Homo sapiens: one gene and its partner. The protein of the gene in region 1 interacts with the protein of each later gene in a biochemical or structural test. Each region holds a gene or a part of one and is shown on either strand. Other genes may lie near its edges.

Region 1 (3,812 bases):
CCCCGGCCCGGCCATACCAGGGCGTCCGTGTGAAGGAGCCAGTGAAGGAACTGCTGAGGAGGAAGCGAGGCCACGCCAGCAGTGGGGCAGCACCTGCACCTACGGCGGTGAGAGTTTGTGTGTGTGAGAGTGTGAGTGTGTGTGTGTGAAAGAGAATGTGTGTGTCAGGGATAGTGTGAGAGTGTATGTGTGTGTGAGTATGTGTATGCGTGTGTGTATGTGTTTGTGTGTGATAGAGTGTGTGAGAGTGTGATAGTGTGAGAGAGAATGTGTATCTGCGTCAGTGTGTGAGAGTGTATGTGTGTGTGAGGGAGTGTGAGTGTGTGAGTGTATGCATGTGAGTGTGTATGTGTTTGTGTGTGATGGCGTGTGTGAGTGTGTGATAGTGTGAGAGAGAATGTGTATGTGTCAGTGTGTGAGAATGTATGTGTGTGAGAGAGTGTGTGTGTGTGAGAGTGAGTGTGAGAGTGTGAGCGTGTGTGTGAGAGAGTATGTGTGTGAGGGAGTGTGTGTGAGAGAGTGTGTGAGTGTGTGAGAGTGTGAGTGTGAGAGTGTGAGAGTGTGTGAGAGAGTACGTGTGTGAGAGAGTGTGTGTGTTTGTGTGAGAATGTGTGTGCGCGCAGGCAGATGGCTTGGGAGGTGACCAAAAGGATCAGGCAGGAAGGAGCGCAGGTCCCTTGGTGGAGGCTGCCAGGGATAGAGCTAGGGTGGAGCAACTGGGATGAGGGATCAGGGCCGGCTCAGCTGGCCCACCGAACACAGCTACTGTCAAGGCCTGAGTGAGCGAATGACTTGCATACCCTGGTGTGAGTTGGGGGCCCCCCCTGAGAAGAAGAAGACACCAGCTCCCTGAGCGCACAGACTTCCTGCTAAATAGAAACGCAAATCTCTCAAGTGTAGGTGGTGATGGTTGGGATACGGGGTGGGATGTTTTGTTCTAACCAGAGAGATTCCTATCTTCTATTCTCCTGCCCTGAGGCCCTCTGGGCAAGTTCTCTGCACAGGGCCGGTTGACGAGGGCTAAACATTGACCCTGGTCTTCTCCTCTCCCCTCTAGGTGGTGCTGCCCCATCAGCCCCTGGCGACCTACACCACAGTGGGTAAGAGTGCCCCGTAGCCCTGGTGGCCCCCAGGCCTCTCATCTGGGTGGCATCTGAAGTTCTGTAATTTCCTTCTTCCCACAGGTCCTTCCTGCCTGGACATGGAAGGTTCTGTGTCTGCAGTGACAGAGGAGGCTGCCCTGTGTGCCGGCTGGCTCTCCCAGCCCACCCCGGCCACCCTGCAGCCCCTGGCCCCATGGACACCTTACACCGAGTATGTGCCCCATGAAGCTGTCAGCTGCCCCTACTCAGCTGACATGTATGTGCAGCCCGTGTGCCCCAGCTACACGGTGGTGGGGCCCTCCTCAGTGTTGACCTATGCCTCTCCGCCACTCATCACCAATGTCACGGTATGTCACACAAAGGCAGGACTGCACCCGCCCATGCTGAGTGCACCCTTTTATAACCAGAGCTGACTTCTCGATCCTGATCTTCCTTGCTATTGATTCTCAAGATAATCAGGTCATCAGAGCTCGCCTTGGTCTCCATGGAGGCCTGCTCTGATTCTCATTTCCTGAGATAACTTCCACAAAGATGTCTCGCAGCCTCTCTCGTCATACTTTCTGCTCCTCAGGACTGGGGAGGTCTTCTCTGATTCCCTGTTCTAAATCTCCCCAGCTTCCCTGCAAGCAGTGAGTCTTGGTTCTGAGTTGAAGTTTTTAGTGAATGTGGCACCAGGCGAGATCTACATGGGGTCTTGTGTTGGAACTAGCCTTTCATTTCTATTCAGATAACTTAGGGAGTGATTGTTCACTTAATAATGGGGTTTAACAGAAGATTTCTAGGCTGAACAACAGGTGATATTTTTGATGGTGTCAGACCCACGTGTGGGGTAATTTTTTAAAGTTCTGTCTCTACTGTCAGATTGCCTTGTTCAAATCCCTGTCCCTTCACTTACTAGCTATGTGACTCTGGGTTTAGTGACTTAAAACTCTCTGAGCCTCAGTGTCCTCATCTGTAAAATGGGAATACCAAGAAAAGGGTCGTTGTCAGGATCAAATGAAATAATGAGTGTGGAGGGCTTAGCACAGTGTCTGGCATACAGAAACCACTAATATATGTTAGTTATCATCATATCAAAATCTGCTAACATTAACCAAGGGCTTGATGGGAAAGGAAGAGCCTCTTCCCCCGGGAATGAAGGAAGGAAGGGAAATAGATTTATGTTAATGATTCCTGTTCGACTAAAGGACTGGGAATTTTGCAAGTATTCAAGGGCAAAAAGACCTGTGGTTACAGCTGTATCCAGCTCCAGTCCAGGGAAACCGTGGGAAGTAGAGCTGGGCCTTGAGCAGTCCCAGAGCCCACCTTCGATGGTGGTGCTTGCTTTGGTCCACCTTGTCTCTTCCATTTCCCTCCAGGGTCCAGTGTCATCCTGATGCACCTGCCCCTGCCTCCAAGCACCTTCTATGAAAGGCCTGCAGAAGCCCTTCCCTCCCAGGTCCACCTGCCTACCCAGCAAACCAATTTTGGAGCCTGGATGATGATAGATAAGAAGGAGTTAATCCAACACCTCTCCCAGGCAACTCATTTCCATGTCAGAGGCCTGGGGTGAGGGTGGTGGGTGGAGGACTCACGGCTCCCACCCATTTCATTACCAAGGATTCCTTTCATTATTTATCCCCTTTCATCATTCCCACCTTCTGCTTTGAAAGGTTCTGTATATCAAACAAACAGTATTCATTAAGAATTGATTTATTTGTTTTGCCATTTTGTAAATTAAGTCATCAAAGCTGGCTAGAGCTGTAAGTCCACACTCCTGATCAGCAGAGATAAGACCTGCTGTGTGCTGAGTGGAAGTAATTGTATTCCCGAGCAAAGAAACCTATAGTTACAGGTTTATGACTGGGAAATGTAGAATTTCCATCTGGATTTTTGAAAAGCTGGGAATCATGAGGCTTTCCCGGATTCTGTCTGGTTTCAGGACACTGGGATGGGGACCACTGGCTTAAGTCAAAGGAGAGGAAGTGATTATGCTGTGGTGGGGTGTACACCTCAGCCCGGATTTCAGGAGGCTGGAAGGCCTCTGAGACCATTTCCAGCTCTATCATTCTGTGCAAAAACACCCTAAAGCCTTGCTACTCAAACTCTTGTCCCTGGACTGGCCACATTGGAGTCCCCCTGAGATCTGATTAGACATGCAAAATCCCAGGCCCCACTCTAGACTTCCTGTGCCAGAAGCTGCGTTCTAACAAGATCCCCAGGAGGTTGAGAAAAGCCCTGCCCTAAATGATTCTAACAGTTTGCTGTCAAGACACAGTGACAGTAGGAGGGATATATGACAGGGGAGACAGGGATGGTAGGGGGAGATTTTGGCCTCCCTCTCATGAATCCATGCAGAGAGCATCCTCTTCTATCTGCTTTCCTCAAGTGTGAAAGAAAAGTAAGAATCCAGGTCCCGCCCCTGTTGCAGGCCTGATCTGAGGTTTGTGAGGGCAGTCGCCGTGCAGGTGAGAGGTATGACTCGCAGAGCATTCAGGAGAAGGACTCTAACACTTGGAGGGTCATGGGGGGTGCCCATAAGTGGGATGGCCATGGAGATCAGCTCAGAGACAGAGGACGATGAGGATGTGGAAGGCACCAGGCAGCAGCAGGAAGGAAGGCCAAGTTTGCTGACAAAGCAGTGCTTCCCCCATCTGGGGATGGCCAGGCCTCCCCATGCTGGCCACCACTAGAGGGGTGGGAGGTGATGGAGCTGTGTTGGCCCAAGGG
Region 2 (3,812 bases), on another chromosome or scaffold:
TACTGTGCGTATTCTAATGACATTCAGATCTTTATTTTTATTTTTATTTTTTTTTGAGATAGTCTTGCTATGTTGCCCAGGCTGGAGTGCAGTGGTGATGTCATAGCTTATTGTGGCCTCCAACTGGGCTCAAAGGTTCCCCCCACCTTAGCCTCATAAGTGGCTGGGACTAGGAGCATGTGCCATCACACTGGGCTAATTTTTTAAAAAGTTATTTTGTAGAGACCAGGTCAGGTCTCGCCATCTTGCCTAGGCTGGTCACAAACTCCTGGGCTCAAGTAATCCGCCCACCTCGGACTCCCAAAGTGCTGAGATTACAGGTGTGAGCTGCTGTGCCTGGCCTCCAATCTTTTTGCCTGCTGAGATGTAGACCCATATATCCCCTTATGCAGATTTTTTTAATTGACTTTATTTTTTAGAGCAGCATTAGGTTCATAGCAACTTGAGTAGAAGAGACAAGAGATTTCGCGTGTAGCCCCTGCCCCTACACGTGTAACCTCCTCCATTATCAACATTCCCCGCCAAAGTGGTACGTTTGTTACAATTGAGGAACCTACATTGACACACCATTATTACCCAAAGATTATAGTGGCGTACATTTTATGGGTTTAGACAAATACATAATGACATACATGAATGCTTTCACCACCCTAGAAATCCTCTGACTTCCACCTATTTGTCCCCACACCCCCAACCACTTATCTTCTTTCTTTTATTGTCACCATAGTTTTGCCTTTTCCAGAATGTCATATGTGTAACTGGGCTTTTAAAATATGTAGCCTTTTCACATTGGCTTCTTTCACTTAGTAATATGCATTTAGGTTTCCTCCACGTCTTTATGGCTTGGTAATTCATTTCTTTAGGGCTGCATAATAATCTGTTGTCTAGATGTACCACAGTTGGTTTATCCATTCACCTACTGAAGGATGTCTTGGTTGGCTTCGAAGTCTTGGCAATTCTGAATAAAGCTGCTGTAAACGTCCATTTGCAGGTTTTTGTGTGGCCATGAGTTTGTAACTCCTTTGGGTAAATGCCAAGGAATGTGATTGCTGGATCAGATAGTAAGAGTTTAGTTGTTTTGCTGCTGTTTTTTTGAGACAGTCTCACTCTGTGCCCTGGGGTGGAGTACAGTGGCACAATCTCAGCTCACTGCAACTTCCACCTCCTGGGTTCAAGTGATTCTCGTGCCTCAGTCTCCTGAGTAGCTGGGATTACAGGCGCCTGCCATGACGCCCAGCTAATTTTTGGATTTTTAGTAGAGGCAGGGTTTCAACATGTCGGCCAGGCTGGTCTTGATCTCCTGACCTCAGGTGATCTGCCTGTCTTAGCCTCCCAAAGTGAAGAGTATCTTTAGTTTTGTAAGAAATTGCCAAACTGTCTTCCAGATTGGCTGTACCATTTTGCATTCCTACAAGCAATGAATGAGCGTTCCTGTTGCTCTGTATCCTCGGCCGGATTTGGAGCTACCACTGTTCTGGATTTTAGCCGTTCTTTTTTTTTTTTTTTTTGAGACGGAGTCTCACTCTGTCGCCCAGGCTGGAGTGCAATGGCGTGATCTCGGCTCATTGCAACCTCCACATCCCAGGTTCAAGTGATTTCTCCTGCCTCAGCCTCCTGAGTAGCTGGGATTAGAGGCATACACCACCACGCCCGGCTAATTTTTCTTTTTACTTTTAGTAGAGACGGGGTTTTGCCATGCTGGCCAGGTCAGTCTCGAACTCCTGACCTCAAGTGATTCGCCCACCTCGGCCTCCCAAAGTGGTGGGATTACAGGCGTGGGCCACTGCGCCTGGCCTGTAGTGGTATCTTACTGTTTTAAATTTGCATTTCCGTGATGACATGTGATGTGGAGCATCATTTCATATGCTAGTTGTTATCTGTATATCTCTTTGGTGGGGAGTTAGTTAAGGTCTTTTTGACTCTTTTTTTTAGGTTGGGTTGTTTTGTTATTGGTGAGTTTTTGTTTTTTTTTTGTTTGTTTTTTTGGAGACAGAGTCTTACTCTTGTCCAGACTGGAGTGCGGTGGCGCCAACTCAGCTAACTGCAACCTCCGCCTCCCAGGCTCAAGCAGTTGTTCTCGTGCTCAGCCTGCTGAGTAGCTCCTGAGTAGCTGAGATTAGAGGAACGAGCCCACCGTGCTCGGCTAATTTTTGTATATTTAGTAGAGACGGGGTTTCGCCATGTTGGCCAGCCTGGTGAACTCCTGGCCTCAAGTGATCTGCCTGCCTCAGCCTCCCAAAGTGCTGGGATTACAGGCGTGAGCCACCGTGTTCGGCCAGGTTTGCATATTTTGGATAACAGTTCTTTTTTAGATACGTCTTTTGCAGATATTTTTTCTGTTCTCTATCTCAAAGCTGGCATTGCCTCTCTTCTTCACATTTACATTCATTTCCTTCTACCTTTAAGAGATCTCCTTTTGGTCTCCAGCCTTACAGTCAGTTTTCCTACTGCAGTTTAAGTGAGCTTTCTAATAGGTGAACCTGACTTAAAAGGCTTTCAGTGTAAAGTTCTAAGTTCTTGATATGGTTCGTAAGTACATAGCCTCTCCTGAGCTGGCCTCTCTTGTTACTCCCCTGCCATTTTGGACTTTACTTGCAAGCCCCTCTCATCCTATTAAGCTCTCTTATCTCAGCCTGGACATCACTAGCTGAGAAGCTCTTTGTGAACTCTGCACATTGAATTGGATGTCATCTCTGTGTTCCCATAGCACTCTGCTCGGTCCCACTGTAACATATCCTCCTGAATTATAATTTTTCTTTAGTTGTATGCCTCCCCAGATAGACTGTAATCTCTATGACGACTTGGTCATCCTTGTGTCTCAAGAGTTTAGGACTCTTTCTGGAACATAGGTGGTGCTCAGTAAAAAGTTATTGAGCGACTGACTCCACACTGTCCTTATTAAACTCTTCTAGCCTTTTCGTTGTGTTTTGTTTTTACCAAGGCATAGTGTTTCTTACAAACTTCTCTAGCCTTATTGCCTGTGTTTCCCCTTTGCCCTACCTAGGCCAACTGGGTTCTTTTGTTCCTTGAACACTGCTTTAGCATCTCTGTGCCTTTGGTCATGATTGTATTTAGCCTCTGAAATGTCTATTTGTGCTACTTTGGGTAGATTACTGAACCTCTCTAAGCCTTAGTTCTATTAGTACATGAACAGTTATTAAGTATATTGCTGTTCCCTGCCTTCCCCTCGCCCCCCCAGCCCCCATGTCCTAATGCTAGAGTGTCAGTATAATTAAGTGGCTAAGAGGACAAGCCCTTAAGAGTCAGATCTGGATGTGTCTCTTGGCTCTATCACTTATTAGTTGTGTTTGTGACTTTAAGTTCCATGAGAGCAGAGACACTGCCTACTTTGCATCTAAAAGCACATTGCCTAACACAGCAAGTGTTGTAAAAAGATTAGTTGTTGAGTAAGTTACTTCTCTAAATATTACCACTTACCTTCTAGTGAGGAAAGAAAGAAACAGAATTACAAATTGTGAAGTGTACTGTAAAGGAGTCAAAGTGCTGAAGAGACCAGTGGGGTGGAAGGGAGACCTGGTGTCCAAGGATAAGGAGCTCGCCCTTTGAAGGGGGAAGGAGTACATCTTAGATGGAAGATGCAGCCAGATAAAGGCCCCATGAAGTAGGGATGAATTTGGACTGCTCTAGGACCTGAGGAGTGTTGCTGGAGCAAATGGGTAGTAGAGAGAGACAGGTTGAAGAACTGTGCAGAGGGAAAGAGAGGAGAGATGCTGTGAAGTGTTAGCTGATATTAGCATCTGGCTGTTGTTCAAGGAGATTCTAGGAGAATACCTAGAGCAATATTAGGACTT

The links.
Region 2: the proteins of POU2AF1 (region 1) and SIAH1 form a complex in vitro, tested with the Homo sapiens proteins (2 studies listed by BioGRID).

The regions. Positions count from the first base shown.
Region 1 is NC_000011.10:111,355,083-111,358,894, reverse strand, and holds part of POU2AF1 (POU domain class 2-associating factor 1), read left to right. Parts: coding exon 1-107; intron 108-1,057; coding exon 1,058-1,100; intron 1,101-1,184; coding exon 1,185-1,450; intron 1,451-2,461; coding exon of another isoform or gene 2,462-2,479; exon of another isoform or gene 2,480-3,812. UniProt on the Homo sapiens protein: Transcriptional coactivator that specifically associates with either POU2F1/OCT1 or POU2F2/OCT2. It boosts the POU2F1/OCT1 mediated promoter activity and to a lesser extent, that of POU2F2/OCT2. It recognizes the POU domains of POU2F1/OCT1 and POU2F2/OCT2.
Region 2 is NC_000016.10:48,378,625-48,382,436, reverse strand, and holds part of SIAH1 (E3 ubiquitin-protein ligase SIAH1), read left to right. Parts: intron 1-3,812. UniProt on the Homo sapiens protein: E3 ubiquitin-protein ligase that mediates ubiquitination and subsequent proteasomal degradation of target proteins.